7 linked regions of the Homo sapiens genome follow. The gene in region 5 interacts genetically with the main gene of each other region. Each region holds a gene or a part of one and is shown on either strand. Other genes may lie near its edges. The genes, in order: ELMO2, BPTF, DIPK1A, SGTA, KEAP1, TUSC2 and SLC38A10.

Region 1 (3,500 bases), on a different chromosome or scaffold from region 5:
ATCCTTGGCAGCCACCCAATGCGCCTGGAGGAACCTCAGGTCCAGCATTATGTAATGATACCTGCTGCTTCATCTGGGTGCCCCCCCAACCACAGCTCCTCCTTTGAGACATTCCCATCCTATTGAAATGCCACCTTCTTCTCAAAGCCTTCCTAGGCTTCAATATACACTGCAGCCACCCACCACAGGGGACTTTCCTGTTTTGCTCATTCCTGCCACCAACTGAAGAGTTACAGAAATAGCTCTGTTGTCTAAGGCAGCGCCACACTGCTCACCTCATATTTATTAGGTGCGATGAAGTTTAAGGTCTCATCAGGGTCATACAGGATGGAGAAGGCCAATTCCAACACCTCCTGAAGGAGAAAGGGTTTAAATTAGAGCGATGGAACAGCCTGGGGTCTGCACATCAAGATCTTGGCCAAAGTCCTAGTGACTCGGCATCATCACCAAACATGCTGATTCAGATGAATGTCATCAATGCTCCTAGGCGGCCACAAGTGTGGCTGGAGATGAGGCCCAGCATAAATCAACCTTAACTTACCCACTCCCTGCCCAAGTCACATCAAAGATGTTGTGATATTTTTAAGATTGGAAAAAAGTCATTTTCAACACTCAGAACCCTGGAAGGTCACGATCCATGACTGTAAGTTATCCTAAAAGTTTTTATATTACCAAGATGACTAACAACTTCTATCGTGCTGTATTTGGCATAGGAATGTCTTAACAATTAAAAAACAAAACAAAACACACACACACACAAAATTGGTCACTGTTGCATGATACCAAGGAACTAACTCATTATTTTGAAAGTAAGTACATAAAAGAAGAATCAGCATTTATTCTCGTTTCCTATATAAACTGTACCACTGGGAAACCAATAGTAGATAAGGGCAAGTTTCATGGTTCAGCTCATAAATGAAAAGCAATGACTGCATCAAAATATCATGAGTTTGCAAACCTTAGTTGACTGATGGAATGAGGCACTGAGCTTCAACAGTCTGCTAATTATCACAAAAGGAGAGACCACCAGACGTTATGTGCCTCTTGATAGAACATAATACCACTGATGACACTGGCCAGGAAAAAAGTTAAACCTGAACTGGATCAAACCTCTAGATCCCTCTTCCAATGTACAGATCTGGGACAGAGGAACAAGTTAAACTGTACCACGGGGAAACAATCAGCAAAATTCAGATGCTAGGAAACTACCAAACAAGCAATCTGGTTCTTCAGCTAATAAACTGCAAAGGAAAAGATGGTGGGGGATGGGGGGGCGGGGGAACTTATGAATTAAGAAACTTAAAAGACCAGTCTTAGACTCTGGTTTAGACAAGATGGGTATGGGGGTGTGTGTGTGTGTGTGTGTGTGTGTGTGTGTGTGTGTGTGTGTATCCATATAAACATTTATATATCTGTAGAGAAATTATGACATTTATAAGACAATTGGTAGAAAGTCACCATCAGTGGAATATTTGATCTGAAATAACTACTTTCATTTCCTGTTATGTGTGCTAATGGACTGGTGGCAATGTTATACACTATACGATGTACACTAAATATTTACAGATGAAACAGTGTGATACTTGGGACTTTCTTCAAAGCGATAAAGGAGAGAAACAAGTGGATGGGCAGAACTGGCCATGGTTGCTGAGTCTGGGTGATGTGTATACAGAGGTTCCATCTATTTTTGTGTATGTTCAAAATTCTTAATAAAACATTCAGGAATAGAGAGGGGAAGATGCCAAGAATGCACCTGGAAAAAACCACCACCAATGGCACTCTCCAAGTATCACTGGGCCAGCTACTCAAACTGGCCTCTCTACTCACCTTGTTCTGTTTCAGAGCACTTTTCTCTTTCATGTGGGGACAATCTTTCCCAGTGACAATGGCCTTAATGTCTGCAACAGGAACTGATAAATGATGGGAATTAGTCTCTGGAAGTTCATGCTGCAAGCTGGTCAGTGCCTACATCAGTGCTGGAAGGGAGGTACTGGGGCAGATGCATAGGAAGCCTCAGCCCCAAACTCCAAGGGCTGCTGTATGAGCTCAGTGAGGGTGGTGGGGAGGATGGCCTTGTACTGTTCCCTCCGTCTTGGTCACTCCTGTAGACCACAGCCCAGTGAGGCTGTGTCAAAGCTAACTGAGGGTCACTTCAGGGCTCTTGGATTTATATCCCCAAGGAACGGGACCTTGGTGACTCCCTTCCCCTCTCCTTCACAATAATGGCGATGATGATGCCATCATCGCCAACAGCAGTGGCAGCTGCTAACAGTTATGCTGACTACCTGCCAACCACTCTTCTAAGTGCTTTGCATACATTACTCATGCAATCCTCTTAGGAGGAAAGTGTGGCTATTATTCCCACTTTACAGGAGAAGAAACCAAGGCAGAGGGGAGAACTTGCAATTAATTAGAATTCAAGTTAATTAGGAGCAAAGCCAGGATTTGAATGTGGGCAGTCTGGCTTCACAGCTTCTCCTCTTAACTACTGCCTTTCGACTTAGTCATGTACCACCCTTTACAGTCTACACAATACATTCACACCTGTGAACTCATTGTTTCTCCAAACCACCCCACCGAGTAGGCCAGGTAGAGGAAATCGCTGACAGATAAGGAAACAGGTCCAGAGAGGTAACAGGTACAAGCCCAGATGATCAGCTACAAACAGCTGGACTAGAACTCCTGTCTCCTGACAAGTCCAGCAACCATGACACATCAACAGAGAAATGAACCTACTTTTCTCCTGCAGGGATTCAAATGTCACCTCCCCTTGTGGGTTGTCATCCAAGTCACCATAGTGAAGGACCTTGTGGTTCAGTGCCAACCGGCAGTACCAGAACCGTTCTGGAACACAAGGGAAGCCAAACAGGTGAGCAACGACAGTACTGGGAAAGGCCTGGGCACAAAAGGGGCCATCCAGGCAGGCTCTTCCCGGCACCAAGGATTGCCCCGTCTCCTCTCACCTTGCCTTCGGCGGTTCCCAATCTTTCGGAAGCTGCTGCCCTCACAGAGCCGGTTCAGGCGCTGCTGCTTGATCAGCTCAAGGATCTCGGGCTGGATCTTCTCCCTCAGCTCCCTGGGGTGGACACACACTGGAGTGAGCGGAAGGTCATGGGGACAGTGGAGCTCTGGAAGGAAAGCAGAGCTGGCAGCCACCTCCCCCGCCAGCCTCCCCTGAGATGGAACTTACACAATTGGCGGGGACTGGAAGTCATCCTGACTCATCCTCTCAGACTGGCGCAGTCGTAGAATCTCAGAGTAACTCAGGCTACGCAATTTGCTCTTGAACTGATCCAAAGAGTTGGGTTTGGAGGGCAAAGCTCGAGTGATTTGCTCTCGGACGACTTGCATAACCTAAGAGGAGAAGAACCCAGCCAACTCACACCACTACTCTTGAGAAATGGACAGGCCTATTATGGAGCACCAAGGCTCTTTCCTGCCCCAGGGTCTTGAGCAGGGCAGGCACTACAGACATCTGCTGGGTGAGTAAGGTATACCTT
Region 2 (3,500 bases), on a different chromosome or scaffold from region 5:
CACAAAGGAGGACTTCACTCAGCCAGAGTGCTGGGGCTACCCAAGCTGTGCAGGATTTAGGGCAAATAAAAGGCTAGAGAAAAAGAGATGTTAGGTAAATTCCCCCTGGTCTAACAGAGGCAGACTGACTACAATGAGTCCAGGAGAACTTTCTGCAATGATATGAAATGCCCCAAATGCTCTACATTTGTGTGGTGCAATACATGTGGCTATAGAGCACTTGAAATGAACATATAACAGCTAGTGCCACAGGAGAAACTAACTTTTCATTTTACTTAAATTTTTTTTTTAAGAGATGGGTTCTCACTCTGTCACCCAGGCTGGAGTGTGGTGGCATGGTCCATAGCTGACTAGGGCCTCTAACTCCTGGGCTCAAGCAATCCTCCCACCTCAGCCTCCCAATTAGGTAGGACTACAGGCATGCCAACCTCTGCCAAACTATTTTAATTCTTTTGTAAAGACAGTGTCTTACTATGTTGCTCAGGCTAGTCTTCAACTGCTGCCTTAAGTGATCTTCCCACCTCAGCCTCCCAAAGTATTGGGACTACAGGTATGAGCCACCACGCTTGGCCTGCCTAGTTTTAATTAATTTAACTCTCCACATGTGGCTAGTGGCTACCATACTGGACAGTATAGAGCGTGAAAAGAATCCACAGGCTTTCTTTGACTCATCATTCAGTTCCACAATTACTTGTGCTGCCTACTGCATTCAAGAGATTGAACCAGGCACTACAGAGACTGAATGAGACTGTCCCTGCCCAAAGTAGGTTGTAATTAAAGAAGGGCCAGATATTAAAAGCCCATTTCAGCTCCATGTCTTAACAGATAAAGATAGAGATAAAGGGGTTAAATAATTAAGAGGATAAAATAATCCTTCCTAAAGGTTTATGGACTTTAGGAAGGAGCCTCAAAATACATGAATATAAAGCCTCAAAATACATGAAGATTGCTAGAACTTCAAGGAGAAACAGACAAATCCTTCACAATAGCTGCAGACTTCAAGACTTCTCTCAGTAATCAACAGAACAAGCAGAAAGTCAGACAGATCTTAGTAACATTATCAACAAACTTGACCTAATTGACATTTATGCAATACTCCACTCAACAAGAGCAGAATACAAAATTCTTTTCAAGTACATATGGAACATTCACTTAGACTGACAAAATTTTGGGGTGCAAAACAAACCTCTAAAAATGTTTTATAAAATTAAAGTCATACAAAGTATACTCTCTGAACAAAATGAAATTAAATTAGAAATCAGTAACAGAAGGATAGCTAAAAAATTCCCAAATATTTGGAAACTAAAACACTTAATGCACATGGTCCTGGAGGTTATACGGGTGGGAAACACAGGAACTTAGCCCCACCTGGCGGTAAAGGGAATGGTGATCAGAGAAGGCAGGCTGGAGAAGGTGATGGATGGATGACTAGGAGTTAGGTGTGTGAGAACTACAAAGAAATCAGTATTACTAGATCCATTCGAGATGAAGAGAAGAAATAAGGAGTGAATAAGGAAAAGAGAAATAAGGGAGATTCAGAAGTCAGTTCATCCTTGAATCCTTTTCTCCCACTCACCACATCCCAGCCTAACCAATCTATCACTAAGGATTCATTCTAACTCCTGAATTACTTTCTTCCAGGCACGGTGGCTCACACCTGTAATCCCAGCACTTTGGGAGGCCAAGGCGGGTGGATCACTTGAGGTCAGAAGTTCAAGACAAGCAAGGCCAACATGGTGAAACCCTCTTCTAGTAAAAATACAAAAATTAGCCAGGCATGGTGGCACACACCTGTAGTCCCAGCTACTCAGGAGGCTGAGACAGGAGAATCACTTGAACCCAGAAGGCAGAGGTTGCAGTGAGCCAAGATCATGCCACTGCACTCCAGCCTGGGCGACAAGAGACTCTGTCTCAAAAAAAAAAAAAAGAAAGAAATTAAAACTGAATTTGCAATAATACAGCAAATAATCCTAGTTATATACCCAAGAGAAATGAAAACATACGTACAGATAAAAACATGTACACGAATGTGCTCAGCAGCATTATTCCTAATGGCCAAAAAGTGGAAACAGTTCAGATGTCCATGAACTTAAGAAATGGATAAGCAAAACATGGTCTCTGGACACAGAGATGTGTGCCTGTAATCCTAGCTACTCTGGAGGCTGGAAGGCTGAGGCAGGAAGATTGCCTGAGTCCAGGAGTTTGAGGTCAGCCTGGGCAACACTGCAAGACCCTGTCTCCATAAAAAAAAAAAAAAGGCTGTATAGCCATACAATGAAGTGTTATTCAAATATAGTACTGATACATGTTAAGATATGCATAACGCTTGAAAACATTAGGCTAAATGATGGAAGACATATATTATATGATTCCACTTTATAAGAAATGTCCATAAGAGGCAAATCAGGCGGGGCGCAGTGGCTCACGCCTGTAATCCCAGCACTTTGGGAGGCTGAGGCGAGTGGATTACAAGATCAGGAGTTCGAGACCGGCCTGGCCAACATAGTAAAACCCTGTCTCTACTAAAAAAAAAAAAAAATACAAAAAATTAGCCAGGCACAGTGGCAGGTGCCTGTAATCCCAGCTACTTGGGAGGCTGAGGCAGGAGAATCGCTTAAACCCGGGAGGTGGAGGTTGCAGTGAGCTGAGATCCCGCCACTCCACTCCAGCCCAGGTGACAGAGCGAGACTCTGCCTCAAAAAAAAAAAAAAAAAAAAAAGAGGCGAATCAACAGGGAATCAAAGTAGATTAGTGGCTGCCAGGGATGAGCAGGAGGGAGGTGAAGAACAGGGAGTGATGCTGACGGTGCGGGCTTCTTTTGCGGGGGTATAAAAACGTGCTGGAATTAGGTAGTGTTAATGGTTGCACAACTCTGTCAATATACTAAAAAAACCACTAAATTATATACTTTACAAGGGTACATTTTACAGTATATAAATTATATCTCCATACAGCTGTTACCTTTTAAAAACTGAATTTTCATAAATATTGCTTGAAAATCATTCAGCAATTCAGAAGATGTCCAATAAATTTAGCTATTACTGTCACTATTTTTAAAATGTGACAATCACAAAATAATAGTTGAATATAACTTACTATCTAGAAAAACATAAAAATTTTAGATATATACCAGCAGACAAAACAATTAAAACATTATAATTATATTTACGTGCATTTTAATTATTTCTATACGGTCACCTTCGATCTTTTAAAGTGCATTTTAATGTATAAGTGGTTTTTTTTTTTTAAATTAAGAAACATGCTGCCTCCTGAGGCTTATCATTTTAAAAAACCAAAAGCATGAAAAAAATTAGAGGCCGGGTACGGCAGCTCACCCCTGTAATCCCAGCACTTTGGGAGGCTGAGGCAGGCGGATCACAAGGTCAGGAGTTTGAGACCAGCCTGGCCAATATGGTGAAACCCTGTCTCTACTAAAAATACAAAAATTAGACGGGCGTGGTGGCAGGCGCCTGTAGTCCCCTACTCGGGAGGCTGAGGCA
Region 3 (2,398 bases), on a different chromosome or scaffold from region 5:
CTATTAGAGGCTGGGAAGGGTACAGAGGAGAGGAGAATAAGGAGAGGTTGGTTAACAGATACAAAATTACCGCTAGATAGGCAGAATAAGTTCTAGTGTTCTATAGCACTATAGGGTAAAGGGATTAATAATTTTTGGTTATTTTCAAAAAACTAAAAGGATTGTGAATGTTCACAACACAATGATAACTGAGACATAAATATGCTAATTACCTTGATTTGATCATTACAAATTGTATGTGTGTATTGAAATATCACTATGTATCCCATGAATTTTTTTTCTGTGTGCTCCCGTTCACAATACAGACAAGGCGCAGGGCCTGGGCTGAGGTGTACATGGGAGTTCACCTCCTCATTCTATACAGTCAGTATAAGAACACAGCCTGGGGTAAGCACCAGGAGGCCTGGGGATTTTTTTTCTTTCTTTCTTTTTTTAAAAGATGGTTGGTTATTTGTTTTGTTTTGTTTTGGCAGGGTCTTGCCCTGGTGCCCAAGCTGGAGTGTGCAGTGGCATGATCTCGGCTCATTGCAGCCTCAGCCTCCTGGGTTTAAGCCATCCTCCTGCCTCAGCCCCCCAAGTAGCTGGGATCACAGGCGCACCACCGCACCTGGCTAATTTTTTTTTTTTTTAGACGGAGTCTCGCTCTGTTGCCCAGGCTGGAGTGCAGTGGCATGGTCTCAGCTCACTGCAACCTTGCCTCCCAGATTCAAGCAGTTCTCCTGCCTCAGCCTCCCGAGTAGCTGGGATTACAGGCACCCGCCACCACACCTAATTTTTGTATTTTTAGTAGAGATGGGATTTCACTATTTTGGCCAGGCTGGTCTCGAACTCCTGACCTCATGGTGATCCACCCGCCTCAGCCTCCCAAAGCGCTGGGATTACAGGCGTGAGCCACCGCATCCAGCATTTTTTTTTTTTTTTCAGCAGAGACGGTTTTTTTTTTTTTTTTTTTTTCTAGCATAGACACGGTTTCACCATGTTGCCCAGGCGGGTCTAGAACTCCTGAGCTCAAGCTATCTGCCCACCTTGGCTTCCCAAAGTGCTGGAATTACTGGCTTGAGCAATTGTGCCCATCAGTATCCCATAAATTTGTAGTTATTACATGTCACTAAAACTAACGGGAAAAAAAGCATAGCAGTTCTTCCTATGCAAAAAAAAAAAAAAAAAAAACGGTACTCTGCAAATTATTTTTTTAATTTAAAGGAATACCAATATAGGCCGGGCGCGGTGGCTCACGCCTGTAATCCCAGCACTTTGGGAAGCCGAGACGGATGGATCACAAGGTCAGGAGATCGAGACCATCCTGGCTAACATGGTGAAACCCCGTCTCTACTAAAAATACAAAAAAAAATTAGCTGGGCGTGGTGGCAGGCGCCTGTAGTCCCAGCTGCTCGGGAGGGTGAGGCAGGAGAATGGCGTGAACCTGGGAGGTGGAGCTTGCAGTGAGCTGAGATCGCGCCACTGCACTCCAGCCTGGGCGAAAGAGCGAGACTCCGTCTCAAAAAAAAAAAAAAAAAAAAAAGAAATACTAATATATAGATTAAATAGAAATAAAACAAAGTTTTAGAAAAAAGTTTTATTTTCATTGCTCTTTTATTTTCACTCAAATTTTTTATTTGGCCATTTTACATGTATTTCAGACTAACGGAAATACTTTTTAATCTTCATTATTGTAATACTACTATTTGAACAAAATAATTATTGTGATAAATACAAAATAGGATAAAATAATTAGGCCAGGCATGCTGGCTCATGCCTGTAATCCGAGCACTTTGGGAGGCTGAGGTAGGAGGATCACCTGAGCCCAGGAGTTTGAGACCAGCCTGGGCAACATAGTGAGATCCCCATCTCTAAAAAAAGGAAAATAATTTTTAGTTGACCCTTATTGTAACTTTGATGTAAGTACATTACAGTACAATTTTTCAAGTCCACATATGAGGCGGTGGTTTTTTAATGTATGAATGAGGAATAATTACATTGTTGGTTAACTATCTAAGGGGCCTGAAGGGGACAGGGGAGTTAGTGGCCATTTCCTAACAAACAGACAAGTATTTTAAAGTGGGTTTTACTGCAGTTACATAAAGCATGGTTCTAGTTCACTTAGGAAGTATCATAAATATTTGGAGATATAATACATTAAGTTCCTGTTTGGGGATTCAGTACCAAGATTATTTCTGGCATGGTTAATAATGCCCGTAAAGAAACTTAGTATGTTGCATGGGAGGTATTTTTCATTCCTTCTGTGTAACTAGCCAAATTCTTGACAGGCAAAATTGGGTGACCAAGGAAACCTCTCTGAACTGGTTAATCTCATCTTGACGGTGGCTGATGGAGACAAAGATGGCCAGGTTTCCTTGGGAGAAGCAAAGTCGGCATGGGCACTTCTTCAACTGAATGA
Region 4 (3,500 bases), 7.7 Mb from region 5:
ATTGTTCATTAGGTTCGAAGCCTGAAGAACAGAACAAATTTGTCAGGAAGACAAAGCTCCCAGCGCATCATTCTCTTTCATCAGACACTTTCCATCTTAACCAGCCTTGGTTCTGGACTCCAGCACGCCAACCAACAGTAAGAGCCGGGCATTCGGTCTTTCATACCCTTTTCCCTACATTTTCGCCCCCCCACCCACGAGCTGTGACCTCCACATTGTGACTTAAATCCTGTTTTGGGTTCCTGCTTCAGGAGCGATCTCGCAGCGCCACAGCGCTCTCTCACTGGCTGCTGCGGTTTTGCTGTGTGGAGGCGTTTTGGTTCTTTATTTTAGCTGCTGTCTGCTTTAGCATATTTCATTTAGCATATTTGGTTCCAGTTTTGCTCTATCAATAAATAGCACTGTGGCTGGGCGCGGTGGTTCACGCCTGGAATCCCAGCACTTTAGGAGGCCGAGGCAGGCAGATCGCTTGAGGTCAGGAGTTCGAGACCAGCCTAACCAACATGGTGAAACCCCGTCTCTACTAAAAATATGAAATTAGCCAGGTGTGGTGGTGCATGCCTGTAGTCCCAGCTACTTGGGAAACTGAGGCACAAGAATCGCCTGAACCTGGGAGGGGGAGGTTGCAGTGAGCCGAGATCACACCGCTGCACTCCAGCCTGGGTGACAGAGTGAGACTCTGTCTCAAAAAAGAAGTAAAAATAAATAAATAAATAAATAGCACTATACTGGGCACTTTCTCATGTTAACTTTCCACTTGGGATTATTCCTTTGGACCTGTTGAAAGGAGGTGGCTCAGAGGTGTGGCAAACTCTCTGTGTAAAGGGCCAGTGTGTAAATACTCTCAGCCTTTTCAGACACGGGTGCCTGACGCAACTACTCAGCTCTGCCGCCGTATCATGAAAGCCACCAGTGACACTAGGTGTATGAATGGGCATGGCTGTGTGCCAATAAAACTTTATTGGTCAGGTGTAGTGGCTCACACCTGTAATCCCAGCACTTTGGGGGGCCGAGGCGGGTGGATCACAAGGTCAGGAGTTCGAGACCAGCCTGGCAAACATGGTGAAACCCCATTTCTATTAAAAAATACCAAAATTAGCCAGGCATGGTGGTGGGCACCTGTAATCCCAGCTACTCGGGAGGCTGACGCAGGAGAATCGCTTGAACCTGGGAGGCGGAGGTTGCAGTGAGCTGAGATCACACCACTGCACTCCAACCTGGGCGACAGAGCGAGACTCCATCTCAAAAAAAAAAAAAAAAAAAAAAACCAAAAAAAACTTTATTAACAAAACCCAGCGGCGGGCCTTATTCTGCCAACCCCAGATGTCTGAAGGGAAAAGGCGTCTGTGACATGGCCAAGCTGAGAGGCCCCTTGAAAGACTGGGGCCCAGTCACCCTCCATCCCATGGTGAGGGAGAACATATTCCCCTGGCAGCTTGGCCAGCGGACGAGGGCTACAGTAAGAGGTGTGGCCTCTGCTGAATGGCACGACCCGGGCAGGGCTCCTGGCCCAGCTGGCTCATTTTTCTGACTGACAGTGAGACTGAGGGCTTTTCTCCCCGACAGCCTTAGGCGAGTCCCTGTACCCTGAGGCTGTGGGAGCCTGAAGAGTGGTCCCAGGGCACACAGACCTCCCAGGAAATGAACATGTGTGTGTGGGGGATGGCTCTCCGAGGATCCCAGTCAAGGAACTCCCTGCCAAAGGCCGTCCCTTTGGAAGCATGAGTGCCCGGGCATCGGGAGGTCCACCTGCGCCCGGCGCACCCGGCGCTCTGCTTCCCTTGCCTGAACCTTAGGAGGCAGACGCTGCTGTGTTGTGATCAGTGTCTCTGCACTGCGAGGAGGAGCCCACGCCAGGGTGGGGTGGGGGTGTGACCTCCCTGGGCTCAGCCAGGAGAGCCAGCTTTTGGTGCTCACTACTGATGGGTCTTGCTTGGGACATCAACATTGGGGACACTTTTGATTGTCGAAGCAGAGGGTGGGGGTGCTCCTGACATGGGGCGGGTGAGGCCAGGGGTGCTGCCAGCGCCCTGCGGTGCCCAGGACGACCCCACAGACAAGACCCATCTGGTTCCAGAAGCCAGCAGTGCCAAGGCAAGGAAGCCCTGGCCAGTAGCGGACACAGCAGATGCGGGCCTGGGGGGTGGCGCAGACACCATGGACAGGGAGGAGGGGCGGGCCGTTACCATGCTCATGAAGCCAGGGTTGTTCAGCAGGCCGGCGATGTCGAAGCTGCCCACGCCTCCCGTCTGAGGATGAGAACAGCCCTGGTTAGTGGGGCCTGGACCAGAGGCCACGGTGAATAACCCCCTGGAACTCAGAAACAACGGCCCCCCACGGGGCTCAGACATTCTATCAACCCTGCGGCCAGAGGGTGCTTTGAGGCAGGCAGCACGAAGCACATCGCAACCGCCCGGGGACGGCACAGTCTGTCATCCCGTGTTTATTCCCCGCACAGCGCGACCGCCCGGGGACGGCACAGTCTATCATCCCGTGTTTATTCCCCGCACAGCGCGACCGCCCGGGGACGGCACAGTCTATCATCCCGTGTTTATTCCCCGCACAGCGCGACCGCCCGGGGACGGCACAGTCTATCATCCCGTGTTTATTCCCCGTACAGCGCGACCGCCCGGGGACGGCACAGTCTATCATCCCGTGTTGATTTCCTGTATTCTGCCGCTTTGACACCTTGGGGCCTTGCTGGCCTGGCAGAGCCGCCCCCTCCTGGAGTAGCCAATTCCCAGAGAAAGCAAATGACTCACCCAGAAACGCACCTTTGAAATACAAACAAACTAACCCAGAACCCACACCCTCAGCACCTCCCCCATCACCCCAGGGCCACAGTCCACCTGCCCCACTCACCCCCAGGCCAGGGACCAGGCAACCAGGGGCAGCCCCCAGGCCTGGGTCTAATGAAATGGCTCCAACCAGCCAACCCGAAGCCTCCTCACCCGGCCTCGCCACAAAACCCACATCGAGGGTCCTTTCTGTGCCCCTCCCTCAGCCTCCGCGGGCAGCCCTGCGGCCGGCCTCCTGCTTCCAGGGGTCTGGGGGCATGAACCTTCTCACGACACTCACTTCCACGCCTGTGCATCTCACCACCAACTGAAACAAACCCCGGACCCTCACGACACCCAGGTTAAGCCTAGAGCCACTGGTGCGCCCGAGGACCTGTCCCCCACCCACACAGTCAGCTCGGCGTTCTGGAGCCACTCGCCCCCGCTGCACTCACGGGGCTGGGGGCCTCCCGCAGCTTCAGCTCCGCTATCTTGAGGTTGGACTTGTATGTCTCGTTGTCGGGGTCCAGCTCCAGAGCCTTCTTGTAGTAAGCCACGGCCTCCACGTGCTTGTTGAGGCTGGAGAGCGCCAGGCTGGAGGAGAGCACCGGGGATGGACTGTTCCCATCTGCCCAGCTCCAGGAGGCCCCGCCAAAGCCCTCGTCCCCGGCGGTCCTGGCAACCCCCAAACCACCTCGGATGGTGCCACCCCCTGCCCGCTGT
Region 5 (4,086 bases):
CCAGAGCTGACAACTGCAGGGAGGAGCAATCATAAACTAAAATAAGCAAGACCTGGAAAAACAGCTTCATGAAGAAAATTACAACAGCATTGTGACAACGTGAGAATCGGGTGCAGTTTGTTTGCTTTTTTTTTTTTTTTTTTCAGATGGAGTCTCTCTGTCACCCAGGCTGGAGTGCAATGGCTCGATCTTGGCTCACTGCAACCTCCGCCTCCCGGGTTCAAGCGATCCTCCTGCCTCAGCCTCCCGAGTAGCTGGGACTACAGGCGTCCGCCACCACACCCGGCTAGTTTTTGTATTTTTAGCAGAGACTGGGTTTCGCCATGTTGGCCAGGCTGGTCTCAAACTCCTGACCTCAAGTGAGCCGCCCGCCTTGGCATCCCGAAGTGCTGGGATTACAGGCGTAAGCCACCATGCCTGACCCGGGGTGCAGTTTTTTAAAATCTGGCAGACCAAGCCTCTTTGAGAAGGTGAGGTTGGAGCTGAGACAAGGATGAAAATTATTATAAAGTGGGAGGCTGGGGAGTAGTTTTCCAGGCAGAGGAAACAGTAAGTGCAGTGGCTCAGAGGCTGAGACAGTCAATCTGGAGAATTGGGAAGGAGTGCAGTGAGAGCTAAGGACTTAAGGAAGGGTTTCATGGAAACCCCTGGATCCTGGAGGGCCAGGAGATGAGTTATGTGTTTTGTGTTTTGTTTTTCGAGACAGAGTCTCGCTCTGTTGCCCAGGCTGGAGTACAGTGGTGCGATCTTGGCTCACTGCAACCTCTGCCTCCCGAGTTCAAGATATTCTCGACCGGGCGTGGTGGCTCACGCCTGTAATCCCAGCACTTTGGGAGGCCGAGGCAGGCGGATCACAAGGTCAGAAGATCGAGACCATCCTGGCTAACATGGTGAAACCCCATCTCTACTAAAAATACAAAAAAATTAGCCGGGTGTGGCGGCGGGCGCCTGTAGTCCCAGCTACATGGGAGGCTGAGGCGGGAGAAAGGCGTGAACCCAGGAAGCAGAGCTTGCAGTGAGCCGAGATCGCACCACTGCATTCCAGCCTGGGTGACAGAACAAGACTCCATCTCAAATAAAACAAAAAAAAGATATTCTCATACTTCGGCCTCCTGAGTAGCTGGGATTACAGGCACCAGCCACCACGATGGGCTAATTTTTTGTATTTTTAGTAGAGATGGGATTTCACCATGTTGGCCAGGGTGGTCTCAACCTCCTGGCCTCAAGTGATCCCCCTCCTCGACCTCCCAAAATGCTGGGATTACAGGCATAGGCTGCTGTGCCCAGACGTGAGTTACGTTTCAAAAGGAGTGGGGGATCTCCAAGTGGCTCCCCACAAGTGGATCTGCAAGTTCTCACTCCCCTCTTTCTGGGACTCAACTCAAAGTCTCCTCTTCCCTGTTTTATTGTCATCACTGCGCTTGTCAGGAACTGAAATGACCTCCTTTGCTTGTCTGTTGATCGACTGTCTCTCGTCCCCGGCCCCAGCGCCTCAAATGGCAGGGAGACCTATGTAGGTCGGCGTCGGGCCAACCCTCTCCTGTGCCTCTCGCCTGGGGCCTGGCACTGCGCAGGGGTCAATAAACGGGTGGTTGGCTAACTGCCCTGCCACCGTGCCTGCCAGAGCGGCCTCCTCCACCCTCCCTGGGTGCCACTCGGCCCCCACTCTGGTGCCAAGGCCCTGGGTTTGCCTCTTGGTCTTTGGCCAATCGGTCAACAATGCCCCTTGGGCACCGGGCACTTCCCCCACCCTACAAAGCGGCAAGTGGGCGACTGCGCATGCCCCTCCTGAGCCTCCACCAGGCCCAGTGAGGCGAGGAAGTGACCCCACCGCGGCCTCTCGGCTGCCAACCCCAGAACGCAGATCGAGCCCCTCAACGCCTCGGAGCCCCCGGGCCTCCTTCTGCGCAGCGCCTCCTGGTTCTCTCGCTCGGTTTCCGCCGCTCCCGGGCCACCCCAAGAGTTGCGCCGTCCAACAAAAATATCCACCCAGGTCGCGCCCTCCTGGCCCTCCGAGTCCTGGCGGGGAACTCGGAGGCGCCCTGGGCCGTGGCGCCCGTTTTCCTGGTCTCCGGGCACGGCCGCAGGGGCGCTCGCGGCCCGCGATGCCCGCAGCCCGGGCACATCCCGCCTCACTCACCCCGCCATGGCCGCGCTCCGGCTCCGCCTCCACCGCCCGAGCCCCGGCGCCTCCATCGCTGCGCGTGGGGGAGGCGCGGAGCGCGCGCAGGTCACCATGACTAAGCAGAGCCGGGCGCCCGCCGTGTCACAATAAAAGTCCCCGGGCCCTGGCCTCAGGCGGTAGGGACCGCTGAGGGGCCGCTCCCCACCCCCGCCCACGCCTGCTGTCGCCCAGCTGCGCGGCCACCACGGCGCCCAGCATGGCGGCGGGGCGGGGGCACGCGACCCTGAGCGCGCTTAGCCGCGTGGTCCGAGTCGCGGGGAGTCTGAACCCCGAGTTCCAGGCCTGCGCGCCCCGGCCCGCACCAGGGGTGGGGTGGACACCCCTCCCCGTCGCTGCTGCCCAAGCGCTCACCTCAGCCCCCAGGTCGCCTCCGTAGGGGGTCCCTCGGGGTGGGGATGGCCGGGGCGCGCAGGGGCTCCGGGCACAGTGATGCCACCCGCGCACTGCGCTTCCGGGAAGCCGGGGGACCGCGACCCAGTCCAGGAGATTCCTGCCTTACCTTGGCTGTAGGGGACCCGCGGGCGCCTCCGCCGTCGGGGGGCCTCGGCTCCAGGGCTGCGTGGCCTGCGGGGTCTTGGTTGTCGGTTGGGGAGCGGCCTCGGGACGCCCGAAAAGGAGGCGGGGAGAGGGCGGAAAGGGCGCGGCGGGAAAGGAGCGGCGATTCTCCCGCCCTTCCCGCAGGTGCCCGGCGCCCGTCGGCGAGGAGTGGGGCATCGGGCGGGGGCGCACAGCCAGGCCCCCCTTCTCACTGTCCCTTCCATCTCCCGATTTCGTTGCTGGATGTCTCCTCGCGGGGCTGCGCGCCACCATCTGCTATTCTCCTTTTAACAACGCACAGCGCCGGCCTCGTGGTCCGGCGGCCGCAGGATCTAGGGAAAATTATCTACCTCGCTAGGTTTTCTTTTCTTTTCTTTTCTTTCTTTCTTTCTTTTTTTTTTTCCTTTAGAGACAAGGTCTCGCTCTGATCTGCACGCCCAGGCTGGAGTGCAGTGGCGCAATCGCGGCTCACTGCAGCCTTGAGCTCCTGGCCTCAAGCGATCCTCCCACCTCAGCCTCCTGAGTAGCTGGGACCACAGACAGGCGCCACCACACCCGGCTAATTTTTAGTTTTTGTTTGTTTGTTTGTTTTTCTGTAGAGATGGGGTCTCGCAATGTTGCCCAGGCTGGTCTTGAACACCTGGGTTTAAGAGATCCTGACTCCATTGGCCTCCCAAAGTTCTGGGATTATAGGTGTGAGGCGCTGTGCCCAGGCCTCAGGTTTTCCTTGTCTTTTTTTTTTTTTTTTTTTTTTAATTGAGACAGAGTCTCTCACTGTCACCTGGGCTGGAGTGCAGTAGCTCGATCTTGGCTCACTGCAACCTCCGCCTCCCGGGTTCAAAAAATTCTGCCTCAGCCTCCCGAGTAGCTGGGATTACAGGCGCCCGCCATCATACCCAGCTAATTTTTTGTATTTTTAGTACAGATGGGGTTTCACCATGTTGGCCAGGATGGTCTCAAACCCCTGACCTCATGATCCGCCCGCCTCGGCCTCCCAAAGTGTTGGGATTACAGGCGTGAGCCACCGCGCCCGGCCTTCCTTGTCTTTATTTTTGATTTACTTCCTATCAAGAGGCGTGTGGCACCCGTCTTTGGGGGGTTCAAACCCTGGATCTGCCTCTTACCAGCTCAGTGCCCGTGGGCGCTTACTTAGTTCTCTATGGTTCAGTTTCCTCTCTATAAAAAGTAATAATATAATAGCACCTACCTACCAGATTATCATTAAGACTAAATGCGGGGCCGGGCGCGGTGACTCACACCTGTAATCCCAGCATTTTGGGAGGCCGAGGCAGGCGGATCACGAGGTCGGGAGATCGAGACCATCCTGGCTAACATGATAAAACCCCGTCTCTACTAAAAATACA
Region 6 (3,949 bases), on a different chromosome or scaffold from region 5:
TGGGGGTTCGGGGTTGGGGGGCAACAGTTAGTTGCAGTAGGGGGATCAGCCCAGCCCTGGGTAGAGGGAGAAGCCCCCACCCAGTCCCCACTCCTATCAATAGCCAGCAAACTGTCCATCCATCTGAAGGCGGGAACAAATGGCAGGTAGGTCGGAAGAATCAGGCTGGCACTGCCCCCAGCCTCTGTCCAACACAGGAGGAATCGAGGTAGCAAACGGCTGAAATGCTCTGACTAGGGGTTAAAAGGGAAGTGAAGGAAAGGAAGTTCCTACTTGTATACAGTGCCCACAGCCTAGGGGCTGGAAGAAAGCATACCTTGCTTGTAAAGTGCTGTAGCCTCTAGCAGGGCTAGGCCCCAGGCAAACTTGGAAGAAAGCAGACCAGGCAAGGAACCAGGTAACGGGCATTCCTGACTGGTATATGCCCTGCTGTGCTGCTTGCAGGGGTGGCTTGGGAGAGTGGGGTGCTAACTCTGCCATTAGCCTTCACCACCCACCAACCACCTCTTGTCCACACACAAACCAACACCCAACCAATACTGTGGGACCGACCCGCTCACAGCTGAAGGTTATGGGCCAACAGAGTTTATTCAGGGTTGTGGCCCCAGCCTGGGCTCCTCAATGGAAGCCACACCTTGATTGAGCCTGGGAGTTTCTTGCCGGGGCAGGGGGTGCTTCTGTCTGCCACCTCCCAGGGTCACACCTCATAGAGGATCACAGGGAAATCCACGTGGATGCGGGGGTGATCCAGCTTCACGATGCCCTGCCATGGAAACAGAGGCTAGTAAGGGTCAGCTCAGGGCCTCTACTTCAGGAAGCTTCCTTGTTCCTCCCAGATCCCCCCGCAAAAGCCCCCACCATGACAACAGATCCCATCTGGGTCCACCTCCACACGCTTAGTGTAGGCTCTGTGACCGCTGCCCAGCCCCTCACCTGAGGAATCAGATTCTTATGCACTCGCCTCAGCTTGGCCCGCTTCTGCCCGTTCTTGGTGACGATTGTCTCCTCATAGAACTCGTGAGCCAGATCCCCATCCTCATCATAGAACATAGAGCTGTGTAGAGGGAGAAGGAAACAGGCTGGGCTGGAGCCCCACACCTGGGCATGGCAAATGTCACAGGTCACGGGGAAGTCTGTGGTCTTCCCAACCCCAAGTGGGAAGAAAAGAGGATAATATGCCTGGAGAATCCTTTTTTTAAAAAAAATTTTTCGAGACAGAATCTCACTCTGTTGCCCAGGCTGGAGGTGCAGTGGCGCGATCTCAGCTTGCTGCAACCTCTGCCTCCTGGGTTCAAGCAATTCTCCTGCCTCAGCCTCCCAAGTAGCTGGGACTACAGACATGCACCACCACACCCTGCTAATTTTTTGTATTTTAGTAGAGACGGGGTTTTGCCATGTTGCTCTGGCTGGTCTCGAACTCCTGAACTCAGGCAATCCACTCGTCTTCATCTCCCAAAGTGTTAGGATTACAGGCGTGAGCCACGGTGCCTGGCCTGCCTGGAGAATCCTTTGCCTGGGGTTTGGGGTCTACTAGAAGAAAGTGGGAAGTGAGGTGATGGGTGGGCAGTGCTACTATGTCAGACCCCCAAGAAGAGAGCCCACACCAGAGCACACCATCCAGGCAGCCACCAAGGCCAGTTCTCATCCTTGATTTGTTCAGCAAGGGCAGCCATTCTAATATCAGGACTTTGCCTTCACCCAGGACTTCTAGAGTGGGCAGGGTGGTGGCCTGGGCATGTTGGTCTCACTCCAGAAGATGCTGCTGGCCCAGTGTCAAAGACTGAAATAGCAGAAGCCTAAGCTAGGAAGAAGCACAAAGGAATGAAGGCTGCGTCTCCCCTGACCCCACACCCCAGGTGGCTGGTGAATTGCCACTGTTGGGTCTTCCTGGTGTCTACAGCCAAATCTCTAGCACAGGGAGCGCCCATCTCCAGGAGCCCACTAGAGCCAAGCCAATCTGGTACTCTTGTGCGGGCCTCTGGGAGACTGGGCTGGGGGTTGGGTGGGTAGGTCAGCGCTCTGGATCTGGAGAACATAACTGGGTGAGGGTCTTTTTTCCTCAGCCTCACCCCCAATACTGAGGCCTATCCCTGCTTTCCCAGCCACTACGCTCAAAGGTTCAGCCCCACTACTGTCAGGAAAAGCAGCCTAAACAGAGGGTTATTATCCCCTTGGAATAACTGGGGGGGAAAGGGAGGCTAGGACCCTTCAGTATGCAGGCTGAGCCGGAAGGGATGAAAGGAAGAGATCTTATGGAGGTCTTATGGAGGCCCTAGCTTAGCTTTACCGTGCGGAAGGTCCGACCAGTGACAAGCCTCAGGCCCACTCTTCCCTAGGGAGACTTTCAGAGTGGCCAGGCCGCCAGGAGACCACTGCCCGGCTTTCTCCACCCCCAGCTCCAATGAGGCTCAAAATATGGGGGTCGTCCTGGCTTGGCTGTAGTGGGGTACAGCGGTGGAAGTTCCCCCGTGGCGCGGGACGCCTGGCCGCCCGCCTGTTCCCCCCGCCAGGGTGGAACCCATGCCCTTACCCGCGGCGCGTGAATACGAAGGGGGGCACAGCTCGGCCCCGAGGCCGCACCAAAGCTTGCTCAGCTCCTGCTGCCTCTGAGCCGCCGCCTCCGGCCGCCGAGGCGAAGGGCCACAGGCCCCGAGCTTTGGACCCGCTGGCGCCCATGTCAGGGCCGCCGGCGCATGGCGGGCCCCGTGGCCGCTCTGCTCACACCGCAGTCCGCACTACCATAACCTGCCCCAGCCGCTGATCGCAGGTGCCGCCGCCGCCGCCTTCCGCAGGCTCGGCTGTCTCCACGGAAACCTCACTTCCGCTTCCGCACGCTGCCACCTCTGATTGGCTGTTGCTCAAGTCGTGGGGGCGGGACCAATGGGCGCCCTTAGATGCTGGGCATCCCAGCATGCGTTGCGAGATCCCAGGTCCCAGCAAGCGCGATCTGACCAGCTGGGACAGCTCCCACCGAGGAAAGTGGTGGCCGTGAGTCCTCCCGGTCTTTTGGGTGTATTTGGCGGCTCTGACGTCCCCCAACACCTGAGTTCAGGCCTAGCAGGACTTCGCAAGCACCAATCCTCAAACCTGCACTTCAGGGCCTAAGGCCAGACCGCCGGGTGCCCATCTGGCTTCTATTTTCACAGCTGTATTTTTGCGATTGCCACGCTTATGTGAACTAACCAAGTTGAAAGAAAATTAAGGAACTGGCCAGATTCACATAGTTACATTCAGTTCTGAAGAACTTCGAATTCAGTGTTTTCAAACCCAGCAGAGTCCATGCTTAATGAAAGCAAGAATTGTTAACAGCTATACCCTCGGTATCACGAGCAGTGTCTGGTCCACGGTGGCAGCTCTGTATTTGGTGAAGGAGTTATGCCACACCTTCTCCCAGAGCGTGGTGTGTGTGTGTTGAAGGGATGGTTTTGTTTTTTTTTTTTTTTGAGATGGAGTTTCACTCTTGTCGCCCAGGATAATGTGCAGTGGCACGATCTCGGCTCACTGCAGCCTCTGCCTCCAGGGTTCAAGCGATTCTCCTGCCTCAGCCTCCCGAGTACTTGGGATTACAGGCATCTGCCACCATGCCGGCTAATTTTTTTGTATTTCTAGTAGAGACGGGGTTTCACCATGTTGGTCAGGCAGTCTTGAACTCCGGACCTCAGGTGATCCACCCGCCTTGGCCTCCCAAAGTGCTGGGATTACAGGCCTGAGCCACTGCGCCCGGCCGTTTTTTTTTTTTTTGAGTTGGAGTCTTGCTCTATCGGAGTGCAGTGGTGTGATCTCCACTCACTGCAACCTCTGCCTGCCGGGTTCAAGCGATTCTCCTGCCTCAGCCTTCTGAGTAGCTGGGACTACAAGCGCCCACCACCACGCCCAGCTAAATTTTTTTTGTATTTTTGGTAGAGATGGGGTTTCGCCATGCTGGCCAGGCTGGCCTCGAACTCCTGGC
Region 7 (3,500 bases), on a different chromosome or scaffold from region 5:
CCTTTTGGCTCTGCCTTCCGCGCTGCAGGTGCAAGGAGGGCGAGCTGCACCTGGAGAAGCCAGGCCGCAGCGACTGGGACGTGGCTGCTGCACCTGCCCTCCCTCGGACCGGCTGTCCTGAGGCCACAGGGCAAGATGCGCGGGCAGGAAGCGTGTGTCTTACGAACATCCTGGGAGGTGCCCGTGCCAGGGCTGGCCCGGAGCTCCCACACCTGCTCCCAGGGGCTTGGCACAGGAGGCTGGAGCGGCTGTGCCCTGCGACCCCCACACAGATCCCTGGAACAGACCCTCTCAATGCTGAGGCACACGTGGACCCCGCATGGGGCAGGGTTGACCATCTTGAGAGAAGGCTTGGACACTGCCACCAAATGCACGTGACTTTTGGTGAGCGGGGGCCCAGCCACACACCCTCAGAGGGCGGGTGGACCCCTAGCCTGGGAGAGGACATGGCACAGAAGCCTGTCCCCAGCAGGCTCACAGACGGGGCTGCTGCTACCCAACTGCATGAGGCCACAAGGAGGGGTCGCAAAAAGCCAACAGCTGAGACCCAAGGGGCGAGAAGTTTGGAGGAGGATTCAGAGCAAGTTTTATTCTCAGGAGAGCAAAGGCGTAAGGAGCTTTCCTGGAGGGACAGGTGACAGATCCCTGTAGATGAACACAGCCGAGCTCCGAGGCCCGAGGGTGTGGGAGCAGTGCTCTGGGCCAGGGCTATGCTAGGACCAGGGCGGGCACAGCCACCCCCAAACTGGGTCCCCTTGGGGCACAGCCTTAAAATAAACCTCCACATCTGGGTGCAGGCACGCCCACACCTGGCTGGCTTTAAATACTCCGAGTGTTAAAACTGTTAACAAACCTGCTTTAAAGACGAAATGGTAATCACAAGCCAAGTGACAATGCCGCAGGTGTTTTAAAGGGGAGCAAGGGAGATAAAACGGTAATCACAAGCCATGTGACGATGCCGCAGGTGTTTAAAGGGGAGTAAGGCAGATAAAAGGTTCCCAGAAAGCAAGCTGCTGATGGGAAGGGAGCAGAAAGCTCTCCGAGGGGTCTGCTCAGCAGGCGGCTGGAAAGAGAAGGGGGGCCTGGCAGGGCTCCCGAGGATGACCTGGGCATCACCCCAGGGCTGGGGGAGGGGGCTGCCGCTCCCTGGGCCTGAGGCAGGCGGCTGTAGGGCGGAGGCCTTACCCTCCAGCTGGCTGGCCGCCTGGTTTCCACCCGCTCGCTCCACGTCCCTCTGCTCGCGAGGCTCGGGCGGCAGCCCAGGCCCTGGAGCCGGCTTCTCCGCTGGGAGGGGAGGCTTCCCACCTGCACACACGGTGAAGACTCAGAAGGTTTTGCAGGAAAGTCAAGGGAGGGTTTGGGGGGTTGGGGGACAGAAGGCAAGGGCGGGACAAAAGGAAGTGGCAGATGTTTCTAAAGTGACACCCCCGTCAGCACAGTTTATATTCAACCTGATGATTACTAGCGAAGCAATAAAAAAATATTTAACAACCTCATAGGCTTGTGGCAATGAGCCAATGGTAACTGCCTTCGCAATTAAAATGCAAGAACTGTCCTAAGCAGCTCTTAGACGGGCACTTAACAACGTGTTACCTGTCAGGCGCCCCCCGCGCCGCCCCCCGTGTGCGCCCAGACACACGAGCACAGCGCGGCACCTGACATTTAGTGGTCTGGCAAACAACTGTGTGACAGATATTACAGTAGCTGTCAGCCACCAGCCTCTTCCTGTCCCCACCAGCTGCCGGGGCCCGCTCCATTTGCATGCTAATCTGGTGCAGGGAGAGAGACTGGGGACTGAGGGAGGAACCATCGATTCTGCTGCCCCTGCCCAGCCTCCCCAGCCCAAGAGGGGAGTGTCTTCCGACACGAGCCCAGGCTGACACCCACCGTGGTCGCTGTCCTCTGCGGGCTGCCCTGTGTCCCCGGCGGCGTTGCCTGGCGGCGGTCCCCCCTTGGCCTTTTCCCCTCCACCCACCGCCAGGCCGTTCTGCTGCTCAGACAGCACTGCCTGGGGCCGAGGATGCAGGCCCCTGTCTCCTGGCCCCAGGTCCTCCTTTGCAGGCTGGACAGCTGGCTGACCATCTGCTTCTGGAACTTTCTGGGGATCTTCAGGAAGATCACCCGCCTCCTCCAAGGCCTGGGCCTGTCCAGGCCTCTTCCCAACCTCTCCCTGCTCCGGCTCTTGTTTCTCTCTTTCTGAGTCGGGCAGAGGCGGCGCCATCTGGCCCTGGACCCCTGGAGCCTTTCCGCCCGCGTGTCTGGATGGAGGTTTGTTCTCTTCTGGCACCTCTCGGTCTTGGCCTTCATCTACCACCACCTTGTCGTGAGGAACAGGAGGCTCGTGGCGGTGGGCCTCGCCCACAGGCACAGCAATCCCTGCAAGGGCACGGGGGACAGATGGGGTCAGGCTGAGGCCCCTCCTTCCCTTCCCAGGGAATTAGAACTGGGTTCTTCCCTGGGTTCTGGCTCCCAACAGTGTGACACAGGCCAACAGATACCACCTCCCCTGCCGGCCTCCCTGCTGCCTGGCCAAGCACAGCTGATGCTAAAGTTCAACAGGGGCAGCTGCAAACAAGTTGCTCTGGGAGGGGCAGGACATTCATCTGAATTGAAAGACAGAGAAAACAAAAAGGACCAGAACTTAGGCTGGGCTGAAGGGAAAAAGATACACACAGCCCTGAGAGCCACCCCGCAGGGTGTCCAGCCTGCAAAGGAGGACCCGGGGCCGCCCTTCCCCATCCGCACCCCCAGCCAGTGCCCAGCACCTTGCCCAGGGCGATCGAGCTGTGCCTCCTCCGGTGCCTCCTTGCCATCTTCCCGTCCAGGCACATCCACGGGCCCCTTGATCTGGGCCTGCTCCAGCTCCTCTCTCTCCTTCGGCAGCTTCGGCTTCTCCCGGCCATCCTCAGCCACGGCCACAACCGGATCCTGGGCTGGGAGCAGGGCACAGTTAGGGAACTGCACTGCCAAGCAGCTCCAGGAGCGGGGCAGCTCTCCCTGGACTGTTACCATATTTTCCAGCCAAATGGCAGAGTCAAAGCAGTTTCTTTTTCCTGTTCGATCATTAGCAGCTAAGTAGCACAGAAAACTGTCATTTTTCATGTGTATTCACAACAAAAATATGTCAAAATGCGATTTACACCTAACTGGGGGCAGGGAGAACTAGACTCCATGTAATACTCAGTCATTACCACCAGATGGCGGCACGAGCCCACCGACCCACTCTCCCACAGTCCCCTCCATTACCATCACCTCCATCATCACCGTCATCACCGTCACCTCCACCACCACCACCACCATCACCGCTATCATCACCATCATCTCCATCCCTACCACCATCAACATCACCATCATCACCATCATCTCCATCCCTACCACCAACATCACCATCATCACCATCACCATCACCATCATCACCATCTCCATCCCTACCACCATCACCATCATCATCACCGTCACCATCATCACCATCTCCATCCCTACCACCATCACCATCATCA

Evidence for each region.
Region 1: changes in KEAP1 (region 5) and ELMO2 together harm fitness more than expected from each alone (negative genetic interaction), as found in Homo sapiens cells (one large-scale study listed by BioGRID).
Region 2: changes in KEAP1 (region 5) and BPTF together harm fitness more than expected from each alone (negative genetic interaction), as found in Homo sapiens cells (one large-scale study listed by BioGRID).
Region 3: changes in KEAP1 (region 5) and DIPK1A together harm fitness more than expected from each alone (negative genetic interaction), as found in Homo sapiens cells (one large-scale study listed by BioGRID).
Region 4: changes in KEAP1 (region 5) and SGTA together harm fitness more than expected from each alone (negative genetic interaction), as found in Homo sapiens cells (one large-scale study listed by BioGRID).
Region 6: changes in KEAP1 (region 5) and TUSC2 together harm fitness more than expected from each alone (negative genetic interaction), as found in Homo sapiens cells (one large-scale study listed by BioGRID).
Region 7: changes in KEAP1 (region 5) and SLC38A10 together harm fitness more than expected from each alone (negative genetic interaction), as found in Homo sapiens cells (one large-scale study listed by BioGRID).

What each region holds. Positions count from the first base shown.
Region 1 is NC_000020.11:46,368,616-46,372,115, forward strand, and holds part of ELMO2 (engulfment and cell motility protein 2), read right to left. Parts: intron 3,355-3,500; coding exon 3,191-3,354; intron 3,077-3,190; coding exon 2,964-3,076; intron 2,845-2,963; coding exon 2,737-2,844; intron 1,911-2,736; coding exon 1,828-1,910; intron 354-1,827; coding exon 276-353; intron 1-275. UniProt on the Homo sapiens protein: Involved in cytoskeletal rearrangements required for phagocytosis of apoptotic cells and cell motility. Acts in association with DOCK1 and CRK. Was initially proposed to be required in complex with DOCK1 to activate Rac Rho small GTPases.
Region 2 is NC_000017.11:67,832,003-67,835,502, reverse strand, and holds part of BPTF (nucleosome-remodeling factor subunit BPTF), read right to left. Parts: intron 1-3,500. UniProt on the Homo sapiens protein: Regulatory subunit of the ATP-dependent NURF-1 and NURF-5 ISWI chromatin remodeling complexes, which form ordered nucleosome arrays on chromatin and facilitate access to DNA during DNA-templated processes such as DNA replication, transcription, and repair.
Region 3 is NC_000001.11:92,844,065-92,846,462, reverse strand, and holds part of DIPK1A (divergent protein kinase domain 1A), read left to right. Parts: intron 1-280; exon of another isoform or gene 281-404; intron 405-2,267; coding exon 2,268-2,398.
Region 4 is NC_000019.10:2,759,274-2,762,773, forward strand, and holds part of SGTA (small glutamine-rich tetratricopeptide repeat-containing protein alpha), read right to left. Parts: intron 3,372-3,500; coding exon 3,233-3,371; intron 2,250-3,232; coding exon 2,187-2,249; intron 22-2,186; coding exon 1-21. UniProt on the Homo sapiens protein: Co-chaperone that binds misfolded and hydrophobic patches-containing client proteins in the cytosol. Mediates their targeting to the endoplasmic reticulum but also regulates their sorting to the proteasome when targeting fails.
Region 5 is NC_000019.10:10,500,557-10,504,642, forward strand, and holds the start of KEAP1 (kelch-like ECH-associated protein 1), read right to left. Parts: upstream 2,801-4,086; 5' UTR 2,685-2,800; intron 2,216-2,684; exon of another isoform or gene 2,141-2,215; intron 1-2,140. UniProt on the Homo sapiens protein: Substrate-specific adapter of a BCR (BTB-CUL3-RBX1) E3 ubiquitin ligase complex that regulates the response to oxidative stress by targeting NFE2L2/NRF2 for ubiquitination.
Region 6 is NC_000003.12:50,325,424-50,329,372, forward strand, and holds the start of TUSC2 (tumor suppressor candidate 2), read right to left. Parts: upstream 2,801-3,949; 5' UTR 2,677-2,800; coding exon 2,531-2,676; intron 1,055-2,530; coding exon 934-1,054; intron 764-933; coding exon 698-763; 3' UTR 1-697. UniProt on the Homo sapiens protein: May function as a tumor suppressor, inhibiting colony formation, causing G1 arrest and ultimately inducing apoptosis in homozygous 3p21.3 120-kb region-deficient cells.
Region 7 is NC_000017.11:81,250,308-81,253,807, forward strand, and holds part of SLC38A10 (solute carrier family 38 member 10), read right to left. Parts: intron 2,934-3,500; coding exon 2,766-2,933; intron 2,377-2,765; coding exon 1,888-2,376; intron 1,306-1,887; coding exon 1,186-1,305; coding exon of another isoform or gene 908-1,185; exon of another isoform or gene 563-907; intron 1-562. UniProt on the Homo sapiens protein: Facilitates bidirectional transport of amino acids. May act as a glutamate sensor that regulates glutamate-glutamine cycle and mTOR signaling in the brain. The transport mechanism remains to be elucidated.